Linked DNA regions of Homo sapiens. The protein of the gene in region 1 purifies or fractionates together with the protein of each later gene. This does not show direct contact. Each region holds a gene or a part of one and is shown on either strand. Other genes may lie near its edges.

What was found.
Region 2: the proteins of CCBE1 (region 1) and MMP2 purify together in Homo sapiens (co-immunoprecipitation; one large-scale study listed by IntAct). This does not show direct contact.
Region 3: the proteins of CCBE1 (region 1) and LAIR2 purify together in Homo sapiens (co-immunoprecipitation; one large-scale study listed by IntAct). This does not show direct contact.
Region 4: the proteins of CCBE1 (region 1) and GRAMD1B purify together in Homo sapiens (co-immunoprecipitation; one large-scale study listed by IntAct). This does not show direct contact.
Region 5: the proteins of CCBE1 (region 1) and C1QTNF1 purify together in Homo sapiens (co-immunoprecipitation; one large-scale study listed by IntAct). This does not show direct contact.
Region 6: the proteins of CCBE1 (region 1) and FKBP15 purify together in Homo sapiens (affinity purification with mass spectrometry; one large-scale study listed by BioGRID and IntAct). This does not show direct contact.
Region 7: the proteins of CCBE1 (region 1) and SLC25A31 purify together in Homo sapiens (affinity purification with mass spectrometry; one large-scale study listed by BioGRID and IntAct). This does not show direct contact.

What each region holds. Positions count from the first base shown.
Region 1 is NC_000018.10:59,466,924-59,470,423, forward strand, and holds part of CCBE1 (collagen and calcium-binding EGF domain-containing protein 1 precursor), read right to left. Parts: intron 2,685-3,500; coding exon 2,550-2,684; intron 1-2,549. UniProt on the Homo sapiens protein: Required for lymphangioblast budding and angiogenic sprouting from venous endothelium during embryogenesis.
Region 2 is NC_000016.10:55,477,738-55,481,997, forward strand, and holds the start of MMP2 (72 kDa type IV collagenase isoform 1 preproprotein), read left to right. Parts: upstream 1-1,460; 5' UTR 1,461-1,742; coding exon 1,743-1,895; intron 1,896-2,260; exon of another isoform or gene 2,261-2,318; intron 2,319-2,795; exon of another isoform or gene 2,796-2,860; intron 2,861-3,819; exon of another isoform or gene 3,820-4,138; coding exon of another isoform or gene 4,139-4,141; intron 4,142-4,260.
Region 3 is NC_000019.10:54,505,831-54,508,508, forward strand, and holds part of LAIR2 (leukocyte-associated immunoglobulin-like receptor 2 isoform a precursor), read left to right. Parts: intron 1-2,060; coding exon 2,061-2,354; intron 2,355-2,678.
Region 4 is NC_000011.10:123,622,269-123,625,267, forward strand, and holds part of GRAMD1B (protein Aster-B), read left to right. Parts: intron 1-237; coding exon 238-327; 3' UTR 328-2,999. UniProt on the Homo sapiens protein: Cholesterol transporter that mediates non-vesicular transport of cholesterol from the plasma membrane (PM) to the endoplasmic reticulum (ER).
Region 5 is NC_000017.11:79,041,169-79,044,668, forward strand, and holds part of C1QTNF1 (complement C1q tumor necrosis factor-related protein 1 isoform 1 precursor), read left to right. Parts: intron 1-2,506; coding exon of another isoform or gene 2,507-2,800; coding exon 2,801-2,955; intron 2,956-3,024; exon of another isoform or gene 3,025-3,500.
Region 6 is NC_000009.12:113,183,278-113,186,777, reverse strand, and holds part of FKBP15 (FK506-binding protein 15), read left to right. Parts: intron 1-414; coding exon 415-529; intron 530-1,973; coding exon 1,974-2,083; intron 2,084-2,378; coding exon 2,379-2,486; intron 2,487-2,932; coding exon 2,933-3,027; intron 3,028-3,500. UniProt on the Homo sapiens protein: May be involved in the cytoskeletal organization of neuronal growth cones. Seems to be inactive as a PPIase. Involved in the transport of early endosomes at the level of transition between microfilament-based and microtubule-based movement.
Region 7 is NC_000004.12:127,736,900-127,740,399, forward strand, and holds part of SLC25A31 (ADP/ATP translocase 4), read left to right. Parts: intron 1-3,500. UniProt on the Homo sapiens protein: ADP:ATP antiporter that mediates import of ADP into the mitochondrial matrix for ATP synthesis, and export of ATP out to fuel the cell.

The DNA.
Region 1 (3,500 bases):
TTCTGAGAATTCACTTCTAATACAACAGATGACATTGGGCTTTGCCTCTCTGTTAATAACAATGAAGGACACTTGGGCCGACCTTGATCAGAGCAGCCTGGAATAAAGTAGGGAGCTAGAAATGTGGGTCATCCATAAAAACAGCACTTTTGGCCAAGTGGCCATTGTTACAGGCTGATCAGTGATGGGGTTCCTGGCTGTGGCTCTGCCACTCGCAAGTCATGTGGCTTAGACTGCTAGCCTTCAGAGATCTCACTTACAGAACAATAACAATGAAGCCTGCCCTAAACACTTCAGAGGGCTGCTTAGAAATGACAATGAGATCACCAGTGACAACACTCAGAGAAGCAAACATTATAGAGATGATTTTTTGTGAGTGCCCTACTGTGCTGGGGATTTTTAAGTTTCCCTTTATGGTATAGGTTCCAAACAGCATGACGATGACCCCACAGGTCACTTAGGAATGGCTCCTTCCCAGTTAAAAGCCATGATGGCACCTGGGAAAAGATACTTCTAATAAAAGAAAATAGTCATAATGGGTCTAATGGAAAGAGTCTTCCCCAGGAAATTTCTGCCTCATCAAGAACCCAGACAGACCCCTCATGAGCTGTGGAAATGAGCCATGGGACCATCAAACAAGTCCCCATGAAGAGCCCATGTTAACTATGCACATCATGGACTTGCTCCCCTGCCGCATGGTGGAAACAAAAACGTTTCCCACCACGAGGACAGTGGGAGGCCCAATTCCATTTCCTGTTCACTGGTTGAAGACAGTGGGTAGCAGTGGGTGGGAGCCGTGGCATGCAGCCCCAGACTGTGCACATGTGCTGCGTAGACACAGGCCAGCCCTGAACTTGAGGATGGCAACAACTTCCCAGCCACTCCCTGCACAAGCTGCCAGTGACTCAGTCCCTGTGTACGCTGAGGGGAGGGTGGTCATCTGGACGCTCCCCGGCAGTACCAACTATGTCACCTGTAGACCGGATGTTGCAGCTGCATCCTCCTCTGCAATTCCTCAGGCTCACTGCCTTTCCCCAGGTGTCCCTGCCCTAAACCTACATGTGATGCTGCCTGTACTGCCCAGAGAGAGAGGAGATGAAGTTGAAATCAGAGATAGAAATAGAACTCTTAGTAGAAGCCAAGTTCTGCTGGTCCCCAAACCCCCAAACAAAAAGAACAGGGGGCTGGGTGCGGTGGCTCATGCCTGTAATCCCAGCGCTTTGGGGGGGCCAAGACAGGAAGCTGAGCCCAGGAGTTCCAGGCCAGACTGAGCAACATAGTAAAATCCCATCTCTATAAAATACGAACAAAATTAGCTGGGTGTAGTGGCGCATGCCTGTAGCTCCAGCTACTCAGGAGGCTCAGGTGGGAGGATCACAGGAGCACGGGAGGTTGAGGCTGCAGTGAGCCATGATCACGCCACTGCACTCCAGCCTGGGCAACAGAGTGTGACCCTGTCTCAAAAATAAATGCATAAAGAATAGGGTACAGTAGCTGCTATAAAGTGAAGTAAGAGCCTTGTGCCTGGGACCTGAGCCTCATGGAATGGCCTGTACCTTTCTCTGCAGGAGAGGCCAGAGATCCCTGCCCCATTCACTTGGGAGTCACAATCCCATTGTCTGGCATTGTGGGGCACCATTCCCAAATGCCGACAGGGAGCAACCAGAGGACCTACGGTTAGAACTTCTCAGAAATGGTGCTCCCTAGAGCCCCTGCTAGGATAGAGAAAGAGGGATGCTCATGACAGCTGGTTTATCTTCCATGTAGGTCTACCTGCTAGTCTCTGGCAGTTCATCCTCCAGTTGATTCTTAAATCTCACCATGCCTAGGAATCATTAGAGGCATTGGTGTAAATATGCACGTCTGGACCCACTCTCAGAGTTGTGATTCATTAGGTGTGGAGAAAAGGCCAGGTTTTTTTTTTTTTTCCCCAAACGAGGACCCCAGATGTTTCTTGGGTTAGTTATGAACTGACCACACTTTCAGACACATGGTTCCAATGGAAAATGAGCCATAAAGCTGCCTTAGAACCTCAAGGAGTGCACGGCTGGGATAGCCAGTTCATGAGGGTGGCAGTAAACAGGCTGGTGCCGTGGATGGTGCAGGCTCTGCTCAGCTGCAGCCCAGGTGGCTGGCTTCAGCTCCCTCTGACTTCCTCCCAACCTGTCTGCCATATGGCTACTTCCTTTTTTCCCCAACCATCTTCTAAGAGAATGTTTATTCTTGTTTTGTTCTGTCTGCGTTTTTACTTTTCTGACCACTTATACTCTGTTTTACATTATTCTAGTTTATATTTGGGCATGTTCCCCTTCTCCTGCTCTTATGTCTCATTGCCAATTAGGACCTTGCTGGTACCAAATCCCGGAAGAATTCCTTGGGCCTAATTGGTTTTAGTAATTGTGATGAAGGGCAGTGATAAGCTATCCCTAGGATAATATCAAACACAACTCCATCCAACAAGTATGAGAACTGAAGGGTCCAACCAAGGACAGAACCATCTGAACAAGGCACATGTTCAGAAGCTGGAAACAAGCACATTCCCAACACACCCAGACAGTATGGCTTCTCCCGCTTCCGGTGTCTCTCCCGGTCATATCGGTATCCCGGATAACAAGTACACAGCACTCGGCCAAAGTTGTCCGTGCACTGCTGTTCACAGGGAGCCTCGGCACAAACGTCGTAATCTGAAAAAGCAAAGTGAGAGCTCACATCAACTACAGGAGGAGGCGGAGTAACCTGGCCCTGGCCTGGAAAGGACTTTCTGGGCTGGGCTCTGCTCAAGGGCACGTGTGAAGTGTGGACAGATATACTTGGAGGGACAGGAACTCTTTAGGGCTGTGGGTCACCTTCTAAGAGTACTGCAATGGGTAACTTACATGGCATCACATCACTCGTGATTTTTCCCCTAGGTCACCTTGTCATCCTTTGGTCTTTGTCACTATCCAGAGAGAAAAGACTCTTAAGAGGGCCAGCCTCTGCGGATTCCCTCGGGGTTGGGGGTGCTGTTTTGTCTTGTTCATCAACTGCTGTAGAGGCAGGTGACTCCACCCAGCAGAATACTAAACAAAGGCCAGCTGGGGTGACAGGCACTGGTGTCATCATGTGGGAGGAAGGGCTGGAAGTCAGGCAGGCTCAGAGAGGTAGGAAGGGGGCTTTGTGTATACATGTCTAGTCTTATGCTGCTGATACAGACATACCTGAGACTGGGTAATTTATAAAGGAAAGAGGTTTAACTGGCTCACAGTTCCACATAGCTGGGGAGGCATCACAATCATGGCTGAAGGTGAATGAGGAGCAAAGCTGCTTCTTACATGGTATCAGGCAAGAGTGTGTGTGCAAGGGAACTCCCCATCAGATCTCGTGAGACTTATTCACTGTCATGAGAACACCATGGGAAAGACCCACCCCATGATTCAATTACATCCCACCAGGTCCCTCCCATGACACGAGGGAATTAAGGGAGCTACAATTCAAGATGAGATTTGGGTGGGGACACAGCC
Region 2 (4,260 bases), on another chromosome or scaffold:
GGTCCTTACTGACCCCTCCAGCTCCATCCCCTCACCCTGTGCCCCACCTTTTTCAGATAGAAAAAACTTTCTTCTCCAGTGCCTCTTGCTGTTTTTCATCTCTGGGCCATTGTCAATGTTCCCTAAAACATTCCCCATATTCCCCACCCAGCACTCCACCTCTTTAGCTCTTCAGGTCTCAGCTCAGAAGTCACTTCTTCCAGGAAGCCTTCCTTGATTGTCTTTACTAGTTTAGGGGCTGAAGTCAGGCGTTCCCAACAGCCTGCTGGAGTTCCCCATCACAGCTTATCTCTCAACTGTCTTTCCTGAGAGAGGGAGAAGACATTCCTCAGAGACGGTTGTCACAGGGAGAACTTCAAAATTGGGATTCGACCTGAGAGGCCACATGGATTCTTGGCTTGGCGCAGGAAAGGATTCAAGAGTGAGTGGGGAATTCGTGGAACTGAGGGCTCCTCCCCTTTTTAGACCATATAGGGTAAACCTCCCCACATTGCCATGGCATTTATAAACTGCCATGGCACTGGTGGGTGCTTCCTTTAACATGCTAATGCATTATAATTAGCGTAAAATGAGCAGTGAGGATGACCAGAGGTCGCTTTCTTTGCCATCTTGGTTTTGGCTGGCTTCTTCACTGCATACTGTTTTATCAGTGGGGTCTTTGTGACCTCTATCTTATTAAACCAGTCTTGCCCAATTTCTATCTCATCCTGTGACCGAGAATGCGGACCCTCCTGGGAGTGCAGCCCAGCAGGTCTCAGCCTCATTTTACCCAGCCCCCTGTTCAAGATGGAGTCGCTCTGGTTCCAACGTCTCTAACGCGGGGCCCCTGACTGCTCTATTTCCCAAGGTGTATCTAGCATCTCGCACTATACGAGGCCAAGTTAAGGCTTACACATTTGCAGAAGGAAAGAGGTAAGGAAGCAACCTGGGACCTTCCACTGTCTCTGTTTCCATCTCTCTCTTTCCATCTCTGTTCATCCCAGAATCTCTCTGTCCCTATCCCTAAATATCGAAAATTTCTGTCTCTGACCATCTATCATTGTGGCTGATCATCTGTTTCTGACCATTCCTTCCCGTTCCTGACCCCAGGGAGTGCAGGGTGTCCTAGCCAAGCCGGCGTCCCTCCTAGTAGTACCGCTGCTCTCTAACCTCAGGACGTCAAGGGCCTAGAGCGACAGATGTTTCCCAGCAGGGGGTTCTGAGGCTGTGCGCCCAGATCGCGAGAGAGGCAAGTGGGGTGACGAGGTCGTGCACTGAGGGTGGACGTAGAGGCCAGGAGTAGCAGGCGGCCGGGGAAAAGAGGTGGAGAAAGGAAAAAAGAGGAGAAAAGTGGAGGAGGGCGAGTAGGGGGGTGGGGCAGAGAGGGGCGGGCCCGAGTGCGCCCCCCGCCCCCAGCCCCGCTCTGCCAGCTCCCTCCCAGCCCAGCCGGCTACATCTGGCGGCTGCCCTCCCTTGTTTCCGCTGCATCCAGACTTCCTCAGGCGGTGGCTGGAGGCTGCGCATCTGGGGCTTTAAACATACAAAGGGATTGCCAGGACCTGCGGCGGCGGCGGCGGCGGCGGGGGCTGGGGCGCGGGGGCCGGACCATGAGCCGCTGAGCCGGGCAAACCCCAGGCCACCGAGCCAGCGGACCCTCGGAGCGCAGCCCTGCGCCGCGGAGCAGGCTCCAACCAGGCGGCGAGGCGGCCACACGCACCGAGCCAGCGACCCCCGGGCGACGCGCGGGGCCAGGGAGCGCTACGATGGAGGCGCTAATGGCCCGGGGCGCGCTCACGGGTCCCCTGAGGGCGCTCTGTCTCCTGGGCTGCCTGCTGAGCCACGCCGCCGCCGCGCCGTCGCCCATCATCAAGTTCCCCGGCGATGTCGCCCCCAAAACGGACAAAGAGTTGGCAGTGGTGAGTTGCTGCGCTGGCCTCAAGGAACCACGTTTAGACAAACTTCGGAGGCAAAGGATGGGGGTGTCTCTCCCCCTGCCCTCGGCGGTGGGCACACAGCGTGGGGGAGGGGCTTCGGTAAACAGCTTGGGGGGTCTTTGGCAAGCTATTGGAGTGATCTCTTGCAAACGGTGGGGGATCTTTTGTAAGCAAAGAAAACCTTTGATAAACAATTTGGCAACCTTCAGCATACAGCAGTGGGGCGAAAAACAAGCCAGAGAGTGGGAGAGGGGTGACCTGGCAAACTACTGGAAAGGGACTCTTATGTAAATAGCGGGGACATCCTCTAGTATCTGGGACATTTGGCGGGGGGGGGGGGCGGTCTTTGTAAACAACTTTTGGACACATCTGGGCAGTTGCTAAGGGCTCTTGCCAAGCGTCTAGGTAAGCCTTTGGCAAACAGCTACAGGGGTCGTTTTTGCTAATGTAGGACTTTGGGAACGGTGCTCTGGCACACAATTTGGGTAAACTTATGCGCGCATAAGGATGGGAGGGAGCTTGGTCAAAGCGGGGCTTGGCAAATTTCTAGGAACCTTCGGCACAGATCCGGAGAGGGACCTTTAAACAAACAGCTCGAGGGGGCCATTTGGGAAGTGATTGGGGCAGGAGGGAAGCAGAGAGCGCATCTTTTTTCTCCTGGCTTAATGGACAAATTGGTCAAGGGCTGGGCCTCGGAAAGTTTCCTCGAACTTCTCCAAAGGGTCGGAGAAAAGAAGGAGAGAGCTGGCCCGGCAGGAGGGAGGAGGAGTGGGGCAGGCGCTGGAGGGCCCGGCGCGTGGGGCGGGGGCGGACTGCGCTCCGCTCGGGTCGGAGAGCGGCCAGAGAGCCCTCCTTCCTGGCTGGGCTCCCAAACCGCGGTTCAGATGTTGTCTTGTGAGCGTGCGCGCGCCTGGCTGGAGGGGCACTGAGCCTGGCCGCAGTGTTGCGTAAGTAGGGCCTGAGGAGAGAGGCAGGCCAGGGACCCATCAAGATGTCCTTTCCAGTCCAGGGGATATCTGCTCCCTTGTTGCTTCAGCCACCCTGCCCTCCAGCCTCCCCCTCAACCTGTCCGGGAGAAGACGCCCATGCCCTCTGGTCACCCTAGGAACTCCTTCAGGAGGTGACAACTACCCTCTCCCAACTCTCACCCTTCCAAACAGCTAGGTCTCAGCCCCCTCTGGATAGATGGGTTGGGAAACCTCCATACATTTTTAGAGGGCTACTTTTTTCAAGGATCTGGAGCTGGCTGGCATAATGATGTGGCTGTTGGGTGGGGGTGAGAGTGGAGCTTTGGGACAATGACAAAGCTACTTGGTTTCCTACACCTTTTCCAGCCAATGGGTCACAGGATGAACCCCTAAATTGGGGTTCAGCCTGGGGGCCACATGGGTTCTTGGCTTGCACAGGAAGGAATTCAAGAGCGAGCCAACAGAGTAAAGTGAAAACAAATTTATTAAGAAGGTAAAGGAATAAAAGGGTGATTATTCCATAGACAGAGCAGGGAATGGGCTGCTGGACTGAGTATACATATGGTTATTTCTTGATTATATGCTAAACAAGGGGTGGATTATTTAAGAGTTTTCCAGAAAAAGGGTGGGGAGTTCCTGGAACCGAGGGTTTCTCTCCCTTTTAGACCATATAGGGTAACTTCTCAATGTTGCTATGGCATTTATAAACTGTCACAGCGCTGGTGGGAGTGTCTAATGTATTTAACATGCTAATACATTATAATTAGCATATAATGAGCAGTGAGGACGACTAGAGGTCACTTTCATTGCAGTCTTGGTTTGGGTGGGCTTTCTCCAGCTTCTTTACTGCATCCTGTTTTATCATAGGGGTCTTTGTGACCCGAACTGTATATGGTGAAATCAGTCCTACCAACCTCCTGTCTCATTCTGTGACTAAGAATGCATGCCTGCCCTCCTGGGAATGAAGCACAGCAGGTCTCAGCCTCATCTTACCCAGCCCCCCACTCAAGATGGAGGTGCCTGGTTTGAACACCTCTGACAAATGGAAGTCTGTGTTGTCCAGAGGCAATGCAGTGGGGGCTTAAGAAGATAACTCTGGACTTAGACCGCTTGGCTTCAAATCAAAGAGTGCATGAACCAACCAGCTGGCCTAGTGATGATGTTAGGCAAGTGACTTCTCAGTTTCTTCATCTGCAAACTGGGAAATTTCCTATCTCAGGGTTAAAAGAGAGGTAATCTTAGGTGCTTACCTAGCACATGGTAAGTACTCAATAAGCACTAGCCATTATTCTATTATATTATTATTATTGTTATGTCCTCCATTTCCCCTTTCCTAACTACTTCCAACAAGGCTAGGACCGTTGTCAGAAGATCTCCTG
Region 3 (2,678 bases), on another chromosome or scaffold:
TTTTTTTTGAGATGGTGTTTCATTCTTGTTGCCCAGGCTGGAGTGCAATGGCTCGGTCTTGGCTTACTGCAACCTCTGCCTCCCTGGTTGAAGCAATTCTCCCTGCCTCAACCTCCCAGGTAGCTAGGATTACAGGTGCCTGCCACCATGCCTGGCTGATGTTTTTGTATTTTTAGTAGAGACGGGGATTCACCATGTTGATCAGGCTGGTCTCGAACTCCTGACCTCAGGTGAGCCGCCCACCTCGGCCTCCCAAAGTACTGGGATTACAGGTGTGAGACACCGCGCCTGGTCTGATTTTTAAAAGTTAATTAATTCAGTTTAAAATTGACCGATGAAAATTGCATGTATTTGTCATGTCCAATATGACGTTGTGGACTCTGCACACAGCGAGGAATGGCTACATCGAGCTAGGCAACGTAGGCATTCCTCCTGTGCGAATCATTTTTTTGTGGTGAGAACGCTTAGAATCACCTGGATTAGCAATGTCCAATAATGTAATACATTGTTATTAACTGTAGTCACCGTGTTGTACATGATGATTCTTGAATTGATTTCTCCTCTCTAACTAAAACCTTGTTTCCTTTGAGGAATTTTCCCACTTTGAGTGCCCTGGTGTCCCCTGTCTGCTCAGCTCAGGGAGTTTCTACTCCTCCCTCAGCTCTCAGCTCAGAGAGAGCTTCCCCTGACTTTGCAGAGGAGGTCAGCTCCACCGCCCACCTGTCCCCTAGATCCCTGCACACTTACCCACAGGAAACTTATTGCAGTTCGCAGCTGCAGATTTGGACAATTCTTCGATCAATATCTGTCCTCCCTTCTAGACGTCCACCTCCAAAGGGCAGGCATCCTGTATGTGTTTCTCACATTTGCGGAATTAGCAGCTCATGAAAAGCGTCTTTAAACAGATTGATAAGTAACTGAGATATGGTTAAAAGAAAGAAAAATGAACAAATGGGTGGGTTTGGGGAGATGCTGGTCAAAGGATAGAAAATTTCGTCTAGACAGGGAGAGTAAGTTCAGGATTGTGTAACATAATGACTAGAGTTAATCACAATATATCATACGCTTGAAAATCGCTAAGAGGGCAGATTTTAAATGTTCTCACCACAACAATTAACTACGCAAAGTGAGGTTATATTAATTAGCTTGATTCAGCGATTCCACAGTGTATACCTGTATCAAAACATCATGTTGTACACCTTAAATACATGCAGTTTTAATTTGTCAATAATAAGGAATGAATGAAGACGGGACGAGTGAATTGAAGCCCTGCCAGCTCTCTGCCCCGCTCAGGGATTTTGCTAATTTTGACACAACCTTCCTGTTTCAGGGCGTCAAACCCGCCCTTCCTCCTCCACCCCAAGCCCAGTTGAGATAAATGGGGTTTTTCAAGAGCCTTAATAACAAGGAAATGCAAATTAAGCTGAGAAGAAAGTAGAAACTATAGAGGAAAACCCAGAGGTGGTGTCTCCACAGAGATCTGCATTAGCAATGGGGACCTGTCACGGGCTGGGCATCTGCTGTGAGCAGATCAGGGCTGGGGGCTTCACCCTCACCCCACCAGACCCTCAAAGGAGCCTGGCAACCCCCGTCCCACACTCAGTCCCACCCGGGGACCGGCCAGTGCCCTTCAGGCCCCAGCACGAGCCATCTCCAGAGCCCTCGCTTCCCTGTCCCTTGTCCTTCACGAATGACCCTGTCATCCCCATCGTGTGCCTCCCTCCCACCCTCTGTCCCTCTAGAAAGTGGCCCTGGGCTCTGCAGCAGGCATGAAGGGCTCCAGGCTGCTCCGACACTTCCCACGTGACCCTGAGCAAGGCCCAAGTTGTGAGCAAGTCTCAGGGTCCTCACTGTCAACTGGGAAAAAACTCTGCAGTGATGAGAATCACATGCACGTAGAAGGTGCAGGAGGCGTGGGAATGTTCTAAGGTTGGGCTGTGGTCGTGGCTGCATAACTCTATAAAATTGCTAAAATCCCTGAATTGTGATCCTAAAATGACGTGTGTGGCATGGTGACTTCCTACAGTGGACGCTGAGATCCTTCTTTGCTTCCCTCTTAGGGGCCCTTCCCAGACCCTCCATCTCGGCTGAGCCAGGCACTGTGATCTCCCCGGGGAGCCATGTGACTTTCATGTGCCGGGGCCCGGTTGGGGTTCAAACATTCCGCCTGGAGAGGGAGGATAGAGCCAAGTACAAAGATAGTTATAATGTGTTTCGACTTGGTCCATCTGAGTCAGAGGCCAGATTCCACATTGACTCAGTAAGTGAAGGAAATGCCGGGCTTTATCGCTGCCTCTATTATAAGCCCCCTGGATGGTCTGAGCACAGTGACTTCCTGGAGCTGCTGGTGAAAGGTGAGGACGTCACCTGGGCCCTGCCCCAGTCTCAGCTCGACCCTCGAGCTTGTCCCGAGGTCCCTGGTCCCTGTCCCGGCTGCTGTCCTCTCTCTGTGGCCACCGTTGCCCTCTTCCTGACCCCAAGCCCTCCCCTCCCCTTCTTCCTCTGCACACACCTCCCCTCTGCCCTCACACCTGCTTAGGTCCCTGGAGCCCTGATCTCCTCTGGACGCCACAGATGGCGTGGACACTCAGTCCCAGCATTGGGTTGGCTCAGAGCTGGCTCTGCTTGGCTGGGTGGGGAGTGGGTTCCCAGAGATTAGGGGGCAACCCCCCTACAAG
Region 4 (2,999 bases), on another chromosome or scaffold:
CACCTCTGCCTCCCAAAGTGCTGGGATTACAGGTGTGCGTCACTGCACCCAGCCTGACTGTCCCCTTTCTGTTTGAAACAGTGTTGAGAACCACCCTTGCTTTAGGTGCCCGACTCTTTTCAGCCCCATGGCGTGGTTGGAGGCCTGCCCTAGGCGGGTGTGGGGAGAGGGCTGCTCGGTGGAGAATCCCACTAAAAGCGCAGACCCAGGCCTGGGGTGGGGTTTTCTGTCTTGCAGATGAAGGACTCGCTCATCAACCTTCAGAACGGCATCAGGTCCCGCGACTACACGTCGGAAAGTGAAGAAAAGAGGAATCGCTATCATTGACAAGGCAGGAACAGGGTGGCTGCAAGAGGCCTGTGCAATACATGTACATAGACCATATAAATATATATATATAAATATATATATATACAGAATATAAATATATATATTATATACAGATTTTAAAAAAGAGATAATGCCTATGTACCAGGGAGAAGGAGCGGGCCCTCCCGCGCCCTGTGCTGGCCGGAGCAGCGTTTTCTTATGGTGGAGCAGCTGAGGAGGGCAGGAACCGCCTCTCAGCACCGACCTCCCCTGATCTCCCTCCTCCCACCCTCTGTTCCCCACCCCTTCCCTTGCTGGCCATTCTTGGCTTTTAGAAGGGAAATGTTGAGCCAAAGTTATGCCTGCGAAGACCCTAAGGTCTCAAAAAGAAGTCTTAAGACGGCATTGCTTAAGGTGCTTCATTCCCTAATCCCCTTTTGATTTGTTTCCAAAATAAAAGAGAATCTTTTCTTCCCTACCCCAGGCTTCCCCAGGCATTCTCTTGGGAACACAGAAGCATCAAGGGAGCCCAGTCTAAACTCCTAGGGTTGGCCGCCCACTTGATCCAGACCGTACTGAGTGTCAGATGGAGAGGATGCTTGGAAAGCTAGGAAGGCTGCATTGTGTGGTGGCAGGCTCCCGAGACTCGTGTTCTGAAGGATACTCTCCTCCATCACCCCTGCACCTTCCTCCGACCTGTGTAGGGTGTGGACCCAGTAAGGGCTGGGAATTTCTTACTTTCCCACCCGCTTTCTCTCTGGTCTTCTCCCAGGCTGGATCTGGGCGAAGTGTCACTTTTTAGTGCCTAAAGTCCTATTGTTTCTCTGTGCCCTAAGAGCACATTGTTTATTAGCCAGGGTGGAGCGTTTTCGACCTTATTAAACCTCTTTTAGTGCTTCTAAGCAAGTCAGGTCTGTGGCTCTGAGGCCTTCACTTAGAGCTGTCAGTGTGATTTCCAGGATGAGTCAGGGTGTGCTGGGCCCTCCAGGATTTGAGAGAGGGAGAGAAGGCCCTTGCCACGTCCGGGGTGCAGGGTCTACCCACAGAACACTGTGAGTGGTGAGCACCAAGATGGGTTGCCAGCCTCATTTGCTCTTTGAACGAACCAACATTAGCCAGTGGAGACGACTGTCTGAGACAGTTTGCACATAGAAAAAGCATCTGAGCCACTGGAGGGAAGGATTTGGCAAAGGTGCATGTGTTTGGGCAGGAAAAGGCCAAGTGAAATCTATGCCCTACGGGAGCCATTCCCAATCCTGAGTTTCTCAGACTTGGCAATGGGGGTTCTGGCGGGGGTTGGAGTACAAATCCTGCTCTGGTCTCTGGCCCCACAGAGGTGTAAGATCATTAAGAAGTAGAAGGCACTAGCTTCAAAGAGTGAGACATTCAGGGCCTTTTCAGCATTGGCCCACTAGCACCATGCATTTATCTGAATTCACGGGGCCCTCTGGGCACATTCATCATCCCTCATACACTAACTACTGTTTCTTCATGTAATGACCAAAAGAGTCCCACCAGCTCCAGGCAGAGCTTGTGGAGATTCATGAAAGAGTCATAGCCAGTTTGGCATGCAGAGGTCTTCAGTCTTGCTTATTCTTCTCCTGGGCTTCTTGACACAGGGGCAGAAGAAACCCCAGATGTCCCAGATGTCCCAGAACATCAGCCCAAAAGACAGAAGATTTTATCACTCATCTACCCCAAAGATAAAGTTGTATTTTTTTCTTAGAATGGCCTTTAATTCCCTGTGGCAATTACAGTTTTTGACTTTTCCATGTGAGAATAAGGCCTTGGTATTTCCCTAAGGGCAGGATCAGAAAACAGGAAGGTCCATGCCCAGGTGATCCTCCAAGGGAGGAGGGTGAGGAGGCTCCAGGGCATGAGCTAGAGTGGATATTCCTCCCCTAGAAGAGGAGATGGGAGGAAATGCAGTTTCATGTAATCCCTGTGAAGAGTGCCTATGCCCACAGCCCAGTGGGTCCTTGTTCAGTTCTTGTCCAGGCCTTTGGGTGAGGGACACTGGTAGGGATCAAGGCTCATGGGCTCTGAGCCAAAGAAGGAGGCATGGTGCAGACTGCTGGAAATCTCCCCCTTGGCACAGCCAGAAGCCAAAACTATTCCCAGAAAGTTTTGAATGCAAAACTTGTAGATTCCTGAATTTATTCCATACATAATTATTTCCTTAAGTTATTTAATTATTAAAGGTGCCACGGTGGGACCTTTGGGATGACTTAAAAAGGGTTCTTTGTTGGGAGTCAAGTGACAGAGCAGACCTGGCCGCAGGGAGTTGTTCTGCTTCTGCTTTACCTCTCAGGACCATTCCCAGGAGGAAAAGGTGGCAGAGAGGGCAGTACTGAGTATGTCAGAAGAGCCCTCCTGGTTTTTTAGCGATTTGAACCCACTAGACAATGTGTGCACATAGGGAATGTCCTTTAAGAATCATGGATCTCTTGTAGGCTCTCTGTGTTCCAATAATTTTTTGACTATCATACCAGGAAAAAACCAACAACTCTATTCATTCCCAAACAAAATCTCTTCCCCCTTAGTCAATAGCTTGCGAAAGACATCTTAACTCACCCTTGCAGATAAGTCTTGGAGTGAAACAAATAAATAGCATTGTATTCCTGGCCATTTGCCTGGCTAGTTGCTGTCTACAAGGGAGCATCAAAACATCACTACTTCTTATGTAACTT
Region 5 (3,500 bases), on another chromosome or scaffold:
TGTGGCCTAAGCAGCTCCTTGGTCATTGGGACGGTCTCTGGGCCCTGACGCATGGGAGGGACAGCTGGCTGGTAGGACACTTGGAGGTGGGGGCTCCAGCTAAGCCACTGCAGAGATGGGGCGTGGGCCATGCAAGGTGGTGAAGACTGGGTGTAGGTATGTGTGACAGGGGAGGAGAGAGGTTCGGGGGGGCCAGCCTTGCTCTCCTCACTGTCACCTCGGAGGCTCTATCGGGAGAGCCCTGGACTCCAGATCTTCCCCTGCAATGTTGACTTGGCGTGAGGGCTCTGCGGGGAGCCCTTCAGACTTCACTCAAGAGCCCACTAAAGTCCTGGGCCGTGGCTCACGCCTGGAATCCCAGCACCTCGGGAGGCCGAGGTGGGTGGATCACTTGAGGTCAGAAGTTCCAGACCAGCCTGGCCAACGTGGTGAAACCCCGTCTCTACTAAAAATACAAAAATTAGCTGGGCGTGGTGGCGCATGCTTGTAATCCCAGCTGCTTGGGAGGCTGAGGCAGGAGAATCACTTGAACCTAGGAGGCGGAGTGAGCCGAGATCACACTGCTGCACTCCAGCCTGGGTGACAGAGCAAGACTCCATCTCAAAAAAAAAAAAAAAAAGCCCGCTACAGACATCCCCCGCAGAGGCTCCAAAGCCCCCGAGCGACGGTGTGTGTGGAAGAAATTCCCGGCTTCCCAAGATGAGTAAGACGTCGCGGTCATCTTGGTGTGTAATATGGGCAGAGAAAGAAATCTGTCAGGATTTTAACTTTCCTTAGACATAAGAGGAGTTAGAGGAGAAAGAGTCTGGCCCAGGGCCTTTGGAGATGAGCCCTTGCTTTCACTGTTTGCCTCTCAAGAAAGAGCTGGAGTCCACGCCGGCCTGGCAGCCAGGAGTGAGGGACGCTTCTCACCCACCTTCTCACTGGGCGGCTGTGTGTTGAATGAGGTGTTCCCACGGGGCCTGCGACATTTCGAGTTTTACATTTTGGTGAACAAAGAGGGGTTAGAGTTGACCACAGTCGCTGTGCCCCTCGGTGGGGAGGTTTTCGGCCCACCTGAAACGGCTGGGCCTGCGACTCCTGATGCCAGATTCCTGGGCGAGGGGAGCAAGCCGCTCACAGGGTGGCAGGTGGGCGTTCGCCTAATGTGGGCCCAAGTGCCGCCCCTCGCGGGCTCCCTGGACTCCCCACCTCCGTGAGCACCCCTTTCTAGAAGGACTGTCCCAATACTGGATGGAGGGGGTCCTGCCCCAAGCTTTTGCCAAAAGCTCTGGGAGTGAGACGTGGGGTTGGCTTCCTGGAAGGATGACTGCTCTGTGGGGCTGGGCTTGGCACATCCCTAAAGTAGATGCCAAGGACACCTGCTGATGCGCCGCCTGGTGGCCAGAAAGCAGCTTGCAGCCACCTTCCTACCCACCTACCCACCGGTGAAGGACCTGGTCATTGAGCCAGCTTTGCTTTGAGTTAAGGGATGATGATCATTCAAAGCTTGCTTGGGATTTTTCTTACTGTCCTAAGAGGGGTGGTATACAATTGTCTGTGGGGCCAGCGGCTGATGGACTCTCCTTCCCGAGAGGCTGGGTGGGCAGAGACAGCACCTTGCTCAGCAACCCCTCAACACCAGCCTGACTGGCTGAGGCTCTGGGGGCAGAGTGTGTGCGCACATGTGAAGGTGTGTGTACATGTGAGCGCATGTGTGCATGAGTGGATGTGCATGCATGTGAATGTGTTGAGAGTATGCGGGCGTGCACGTGAGTGTGCATGTGATGTGGGTATATGTGTGCATGTTAATGTGTGCACGTGTGTTGAAAGTGTGCATGTGTGGATTGCATGTATGCGAATGTGCATGTGTGTGGATTGCATGTATATGAATGTGTGTGCATGTGTGGGTTGCATGTGTGTGTGGGTTGCATGTGTGTATGTGTGTGCATGTGTGCATGGATTGCATGTATGTGAATGTGTGTGCATGTTGGATTGCATGTGAGTGCATGTGATGGTATATGTGTGTGAGTGCATGTAAAAGTGTGCATGTGTGTGGATTGCATGTGTGTGTGAATCTGTGTGCATGTGATATGGGTATATGTATGCATGTGTGTGCATGTGTGTTGAGAGTGTGCATGTGATTTGGGTATGTGTGCATGTGAGTTGTGCATGTGTGTTGAGTGCATGTGAGCATGTGGATTGCATGTGTGAGTGCATGTGTGTGGACTGTGTATGTGCATGTATGTGCATGTGAGTGTGAGTGTATGTGTGTTGACTGTGTGCATGTGAGCGTGTGGATTCCATGTGTGTTAAGAGTGTGCATATGGGTGCGTGGATTGCATGAGTGTGCATGTGATGTGGGTATATGTATGCATGTGTGTAGGTTTCATTGTTGAGACTGTGCATGTGTATTGTGTGTACATGTGTGTGGATTACATGTGTGTGGATTGCATGTGTGTTGGGTGCATGTGAATGTGTGGGTTGCATGTGAGTGTATGTGACTGTGTGTGCATGTGTGGATTGCATGTGTGTTGAGTGTGTGCATGTGTGGGGGTTGCATGTATGTGAATGTGTGTGCATGTGCGTGTGTGCACGTGAGTGCGTCGTGAGTGCGTGTATGCATGCATGGGTGTGTGAGAGTGATTGTCCTCCCAGAAGCTGTGTAACTGCAGCATTTCCCAGTGGCGTGAGGCTGGGGAAGCACCTCCGATTTCCAGGCTGTTTCTCTCCCCAATTTTCAGGCTGTTTCTCTGTGCAGCTCCTTCCTAACTCGGTGCCTTCCCTGTGTGTTTCTTTCCCACCAGGGCCCGGCAGGAAGATGGGCTCCCGTGGACAGGGACTCTTGCTGGCGTACTGCCTGCTCCTTGCCTTTGCCTCTGGCCTGGTCCTGAGTCGTGTGCCCCATGTCCAGGGGGAACAGCAGGAGTGGGAGGGGACTGAGGAGCTGCCGTCGCCTCCGGACCATGCCGAGAGGTGAGGGGCCACGAGGGTGTAATAGCAGGAGCTCTGGCTCTGGCCAGGCTGAGCCTGGGCCTTGGGGCCCCTGGGGGAGCTAGTTCACTGTGAGATGTGAAGGCAAGAAAGCTGAAGCTGAGCCGTGGCCCTGCTGGAGGCTGGTCCTGCAGGACAGACGAGCGATTCCTCCTTTCAGTGGCTTGGGCACCTCACCTGAAACTGCGGACAGTGATCCAGCCTCACCACGAGCCTAAAGGAGTGGGGTCTGCAAGTGGCTTTGCAGCTGCCTCCTTAAGAGCAGACCAAGCTCCCAACCTGCCCTCCAGTTTGTCTTTCCATTCTCACTTTGTCCGCTGAGAATATCTGCTGGGGACCTAGGCACCACTTGGAGGCAGGGAGAAGTGGAGCATGGCCTTAGGAGAGATGCTGGACCAAGAGCTGGTGTCCATGGCCCACGCGTCTTATCACACTGCAGGACAGGAGAGGACAGCGGAGACTGGGTGGGCCAAGTGTCGGCTTCCCTTGAAAGGTTGTGAAGGACTCTGGATGGCCTTCGTGTCTAC
Region 6 (3,500 bases), on another chromosome or scaffold:
AGAGGCATCCTTGGAAATTGGCAGATTTGGTTTGGAATCTCAGTGAGCACTTCTTCTTTAAACTCAATGGAAGCTAAGCAGAGTTTATTAATCTAAAAACTTCTTAGACAATAGGCCTGATAATGGGGAATGAATCCCTGCTTAATTATCTCACCAGATGACTGGGTAGTGACCTAAGATACACTTTCTTCAGTTTCTGGGTAGGATTTTAGTGACTGGTTTCCCCTGGGATACATAGATAACTCTCCTGCTGCAGTCCTTACCAACTGCCAAACCCAGATCTCACCCATCTCTAGCTTCAGTAAGTTTGAGTCTCCTCCCAGCTCATCCACTTTATTCCACCAAAGAAAAATGTGAACAAAAAAGAAAGACATGAATGTTTTATCAACCAGTGGTAACTCGTCAGTTTCTCAGCCCTATGCAGGTATGCAAGCCTACGCTTATCCCCAGGCATCTGCCGTCACCTCCCAGCTGCAGCCCGTTCGGCCTTTGTACCCAGCACCGCTCTCTCAGCCTCCCCATTTCCAAGGTAGGGAGTAATTCCCTCAGTTTCTCATCTTCCGCTCTTGCTGTGCTTTCCCTCTTCTTGCTCCTCCTTCATTTTCACACCAACAGCTCTCTACTCATTGTTTCTTCTCTTTTTTAACAGCTTTGTTGAGATATAATATGTATTCCACACATTCATTCATTTTAAATGTGCAATTCAAAAGTGTTTTAGTAAATTTGCAGAGTTGTGCATTCATCACTACAATCCTATTTTAGAACATTTCCGTCATCCCCCAATGTTTCCTTGTGTCCACATTCTGTGTTTTTTTCCTTGGATTTTCTCCCCTGGCCCTTTTAATTCCTCTGTTAGAGTAGCTAGAGTTTAGAGAAAATAGTAAAAGAGCAAAACATTGGAGGAAATTGGGAGAAAGTTGAATACTATAGGTGTTTAGTATCTCTAATGAAAGCTACTCTGTTAACATTTTTAAATTATGAAAATAAGAGACTTTTATAAAAAAGTCAAGCAGTACAAAAGGGTGTAAAGTGAAGTTACTGTCCTTCCCCTCCATAAACCCCCTGACCTTGGGAAACTGTTGTTAACAGTTACTTGGGTAACTTTTCAGATATTTTGTATGCATGTACAAATGTGAGTATCTAATGTAAAAAAATCAAACCAAGATAAAGTGTAAACTGCTATGATGGAATCCTGCCTTGTTCTGCTATTAGTCTTCTGTTTAGTAATCAGCTTTGGTATTAGGACAGTGGTAGGAAGAAGCCAGTATGTCCTGCAACATAATTTGTGGTTCTGGACTGGTCAGGATTTCCTGAATGCAGCCTTTATCTGGAAGCTCTGCCCTTCTCCATCTGGGATACGCTTTTTCATCCATCAAAACTGTCATCTCCCTCTGTGAAGCCTTCCCTGACTATTCTCTGTCCCTCTTTCCTCTCTTCCCACAAACACAACTGTGTACGCGTGTCACCAAAGAGTTAATCGTGCTTTTCTCTGTGCTACTTTTATACCTAGTATATGGTCCATTGTTTTGCACTTAATACACTCTCTTGTAATGATTTGTTTACATGTCAGTCTCCCAGCCAGACTGAGAGCTCACCAAGGGCAGAAGCCGTGTTTTGTTTACTGCTGTATTCCTGGTACCTGGTACAATGCTTGGCATACAGTTGGATGAACGGGAAAGTAATCTGAGCTGCCGGTGCTGTGGCAGTGCAAAGTGGGCATATTTGTGCCCTTGGACCAGATGTAGCCCTTGATGCATTTTGCAGGAACACGGCTTAGTTATTGTTTACTTTGAAGCCCTTTTGCCTCTACTCTCTCCCATATATCTTCTCCTGACAGGGTGAAGTCACCTATAGCATTTCCTAGTGTATGGAAGTATTAATTTCTTTCTTTACTGGAAGAGCTACTAGCTTTTCTTCATACAGTTTCCTCTGCTCCAGTTTCATAAGTTTCTTTTTGGCTTGTATCTGTTTAGGATCAGGTGATATGGCTTCATTTCTCATGACTGAAGCCCGGCAACATAACACTGAAATTCGAATGGCAGTCAGCAAAGTGGCTGATAAAATGGATCATCTCATGACTAAGGTGACTGAGTCAGAGTTGGGGTGATGTTGAAAGTGGGGATGTAAACAGGGAGCAGCCAGAACTGTAGGTAAACTCTTCTTTGATTTCCTGCATTGGTAGTAGTGAGAGGTTATTTCCCTACAAGGATAGTTATAATTATGTTGGGATCCAGTTAGTAGGAGAAAACTCTAACTTAACAGTTAGAGATTGTCCCAGGAACTCATTAACCCCCTTAACAACAGGGTCAAATCTTGGGTAAATTGTATTTCTTCATTTTATAATTTCTCACAAGGTCTTTCTGGTATCCCTTTTGTAGGTTGAAGAGTTACAGAAACATAGTGCTGGCAATTCCATGCTTATTCCTAGCATGTCAGTTACAATGGAAACAAGCATGATTATGAGCAACATCCAGCGAATCATTCAGGTGAGGGTGATTAAGAACATACCACTCAGGCTGAAGGTCTTACCCATCCTCTCTTCTCAGAGGTACTACTCTTTAACACCTCCACCCCAGAAATAGCCTGTGATAAACGCTACACTGGGTTAGACAATTCTAGAAAATCCATTATGGCTTAATTCTGTCCAAGTGACTTATCACTATATATTCTGAAGGAAACATTGCTTTTTTGACCATACTTCAGAATTTCACTTCTTTTTTTAGCCATTTATTCACTCAATCCATTGGACCTAGTGATTTGTATCCATCAGGTGTAATCTGATGTGTTGTTTTAACATACATGTGGACATAAGTTCTAGTGTTTTGTCTCAAAACATGTTAACAATGTCACCTGTCAGTTCAAGTTGATTCTCTTCTATCTGGCACTTTTCTCCCAAGACACTTAAATTGTACATCATATATTTTGAAATTAGGAAAATGAAAGATTGAAGCAAGAGATCCTTGAAAAGAGCAATCGGATAGAAGAACAGAATGACAAGATTAGTGAACTAATTGAACGAAATCAGAGGTAATGACAGGTACGGGGCCTGGCTAGGATGGACAAAAGGGTTTATTATGTATATGCCCAGCTTAAGTACACGTATTTGTTTAGGGCAGTACGTATGTATTTCTGCCATTTCTGTTTCCTGCCTGTCATGTGAATTATTGCCTGTTTTCTGAGAGGCATTGCAGTAGAAGGAGCTTAGTAGGCTGTGATGTAGGGCAGACCTGTGTTTGATTCCTGCTCTGACCCTCATTCATTCTGTGGCTCTGGGCATGTTATTTATTCCTGCTGGCCCTAGTTTCTTTATCTTTAAAACTGGTATTATTACTTACAGAACTCTGGTGTCAACTCTTCTCTCTTCTGTGTGGGCTAACTCTATTTTATCCATCAGAACTCAGCCAAAACTTCACTGATTCCCATATAAGACCTAAGGATTTTGTACTTTTTGTAGATACTTCTGAAGATTTGGAGGGGTGGGTGGGGAGGATGAGTGGAAC
Region 7 (3,500 bases), on another chromosome or scaffold:
AGATTTTTGTAATCTATCCAAGGGAACTGGAACCTATGTAGTGCATAGCATATCTAAGTAGAGTTGAATTAAAACGCTGAAACCTGACTCCCAAAAATAGTTAGAAAATGCATTCAGAATTTTACTTAGGGGCTCCTCCTGTGTTATACTCTTAGCAGGGGCATTGGAGTTTCTAACAGCAAGGTACAGCAGAGGCAAAGAAGGAAATAAGAATAAGATGTTTTAGTGTGATCTATGGGAAAAGAGGTTAAAACAAGAGTTCTTAACCTGACACCTGGAGCTTCAGGGAATTCAAGAATTCTGTGACATCTATGTAAAACTATTTTATGTATGTGAGATTTTATATTTTTTCTGACCTAACCCATTAAGAATTGCCTGCTATACTACTTTAACAGTTTTCCTGTTATACTTCTAGGGATTTGTTTGTAAATTTTCATTGAGATATTGACATTTCTTTTGATGCAAATGGTTTTATTCGTGCAAATACAATTTTTCTCAAAGGAACACATTCTTCAGCCAACACTAGCAAACCTCTTTAGTCATAAATCTGACACTCTGTCATCATGGTCTCATGTTAGTTTCCAGATGTCTTTATCATTAAAACCTTCTGTTTATGTTCAGTACGCTAATCAAAGTTACAAACCTTTGTACTACTCTTTTTTTTTTTTTCTTTTAGATAGGGTCCTGCTCCATCGCCCAGGCTGGACTGCAGGGCACAATCGTGACTTAACTGCAGCCTGGAGTTTTGGTGTTCAAGAACTCCCACCTCAGCCTCCTCAGTAGCAGGGAGCACAGGCACATGCCACCATGGCAGCTAAGTTTGTTTGGGGTTTGTTTTTTTTAGAGATAGGGTCTCACTGTGTTACCCAGGCTGGTCTCAAACTTCTGGCCTCAAGCAGTCATCCATTTTCAGCCTTCCAAGCCATTGGGATTACAGGCATGAGCCACCATGCCTGGCTTGTGCTATTATGTATTATACTCATTTTTTATATACTCAGCAATATAATCATAATTACAGAATTATAACTAATAACTCCTAGTCTGAAACCCATAATATCTCATACCAGTCAGCTGTATTAGCCATTTCCAAAGTGGCCATTAATAGTTAAAAAGCCATGTGTAAAATAGCCTTCAAAAACCAGCTTATTAGTTTTTTCCTTTAAACAGCTGATTTCAATTTTCTTTTTAGGAGAGGGTCTCACTCTGTTCCCCAGGCTGGAGTGTGGTGGCACCATCACAGCTCACTGCAGCCTTGGCCTCCCAGAGTCAAGCGATTCCCACTCCGGATTCAAGCAATTCTCATTCCTCAGCCTCCTGAGTAGCTGAGACTACAGACGTGCACCACCACACCCAGCTAATTTTTTGTATTTCAGTAGAGATGGGCTTCCACCATGTTGCCCAGGCTGGTCTCAAATTAAGCTCAGGCAATCTACCTGGCTCAGCCTCCCAAAGTGCTAGGATTATAGATGTGAGCCACCACGCCTGGCCCAAATTGTTTAATTTCCATATAATTTGTGCTTTTGAGAGATCTTTTTGATATTGACTTCTGTTTTTATTCTGTTGTGGTCAGAGTATGGTTGATATAATTTCTATTTTTTTGTATTTATGGAGACTTGCTTTATGGCTTAGCATGTGGTCAATCTTGGAGTATGTTCCATGTGTAGAAGAGAAGAATGTAATTCTCTGGTTGTTGGGTGGAGTATTCTATAGATGTCTATTAGGTTCGAATGGTCAAGTGTGGAATTTAAGTCTAGAATTTCTATGTTCATTTTCTGCCTTGATGGTCTAAAGCTGTTGGTGGGGTGTTGAAGTCCCCCACTCTTATTGTGTGACTGGCTAAGTCTTTTTGTAAGTGTAGAAGTACTTGTTTTATAAATCTGGGTGGTCCAAATGTTGGGTATGTATATATTTAGGATAGTTAAATCTTCTTGTTGAATTGAACCCTTTTTCATTATGTGATGCACATCTTTGTCCTTTTTATTTTTGCTGGTTTAAACTCTGTTATATCTCATATAAGAATAATGACCCCTGCTCTTTTTTGTTTTTTATTTGCATGATCCTTTTCCAACCCTTTACTTTGAGCCTGTGGGTGTCATTACATATGAGATTGGTCTCTTAAAGACAGCAGACAGATGCATCTTGTTTTTTATCCAACTTGTCACTCTGTCTTTTAAACGGGGTGGTTAGAGGTTTACACTGAAGGTTAATATTTGATATATGAGGTTTTGATCATATTGTGAATTTGTTAGCTGGTTTCTTCATATTTTATATTGTGTGGTTGCTTTGTAGGATCTCTTGGCTATGTTAACAGTGTTTTTGTGGTAGCAGGTATTTTTCTTTCATTTCCATGTGTAGAGCTCCCTTAAGGATTGCTTGTCACCTGGTCTGGTGGTAACTAAATTCTCTTAGCACTTGCTTGCCTGGAAAAGATTTTATCTCTTCTTCATGTATAAAATTTAGTTTGGTGTGATATGAAATTCTTGGTTTGAATTTTTCTTTAAGAATGCTGAAAATAGGCCCCCAATCTCTCCTGGCTTGTAGTGTTTCTGCTGAGAAGGCTACTGTTAGCTTGATGGGTTTCTCTTTGTACATGATCTGACCTTTTCCTTTAGCTCTCTTTAAGATTTTTTCTTTAGTGTTGACCTTGGACATTCTGGTGACTATATGCCTTGGTGATTGATGTTCATTTTGTACAGTATCTCACAGGTGTTCTCTGGATTTCTTGTATCTGGACAAAGATTAGGGAAATTTTCTTGAATTATTTCCTCAAATATGTTTTTTGGGTTGTTTACTTTTTCTGTTTCAGGAATGCCAGTAACTTGTAGGTTTGGCTGCTTTACATAATCTTATATTTCTCAAAGACTTTGTTCATTTATTAAAATTCTTTTTTCTGTATTTTTGTCTAACTGGGTTAAAGGACCAGTCTTCAAGCTCTGCATTTCTTTCTTCTGCTTGGTCCAGTCAATTGATAATTTTTTTAATTGTATTTTGAAATTTCTTAAGTAAGCTTTTCAATTCCATAAGATCTCATTGATTTCTTTTGAAGATGTTTATCTCTTCTTTCATTTCCCAGATTACTCTAGAAGTTTGTGTCTATTTTCAACCTTCTTTTAGATCTTATTGAGCTTCCTTGCAATTCATGCTTTGAATTCTTAGTCATTTCTGAGTTTCCATTTTGGCTAGGAACCATTGCTTGACCGCTAGTGTGATCCTTTGGTGTTGTTATTACATTCACATTTTTTGTGGTGCCTGATTTCTTGCCCTATTCCTTCTCAACTGGAGACACTAGTGCTTCCAATTTTTGTAGTCATTTTAATGCAGGTAGGATTTTTTTTCTTTTTCTATGTAACATTATTGGGGTTTTTTCTTTTCTCTTTCCCCCTCCTCCCTTGGGGGTGTAACTGTAGACAGTGTTGGGTAGGGGCTTTTGACTTTGCTCTATAACCCTTGGGGGTGTAACTGTAGACAATGTTGGACAGGGGCTTTTGACTTTGCTTCTA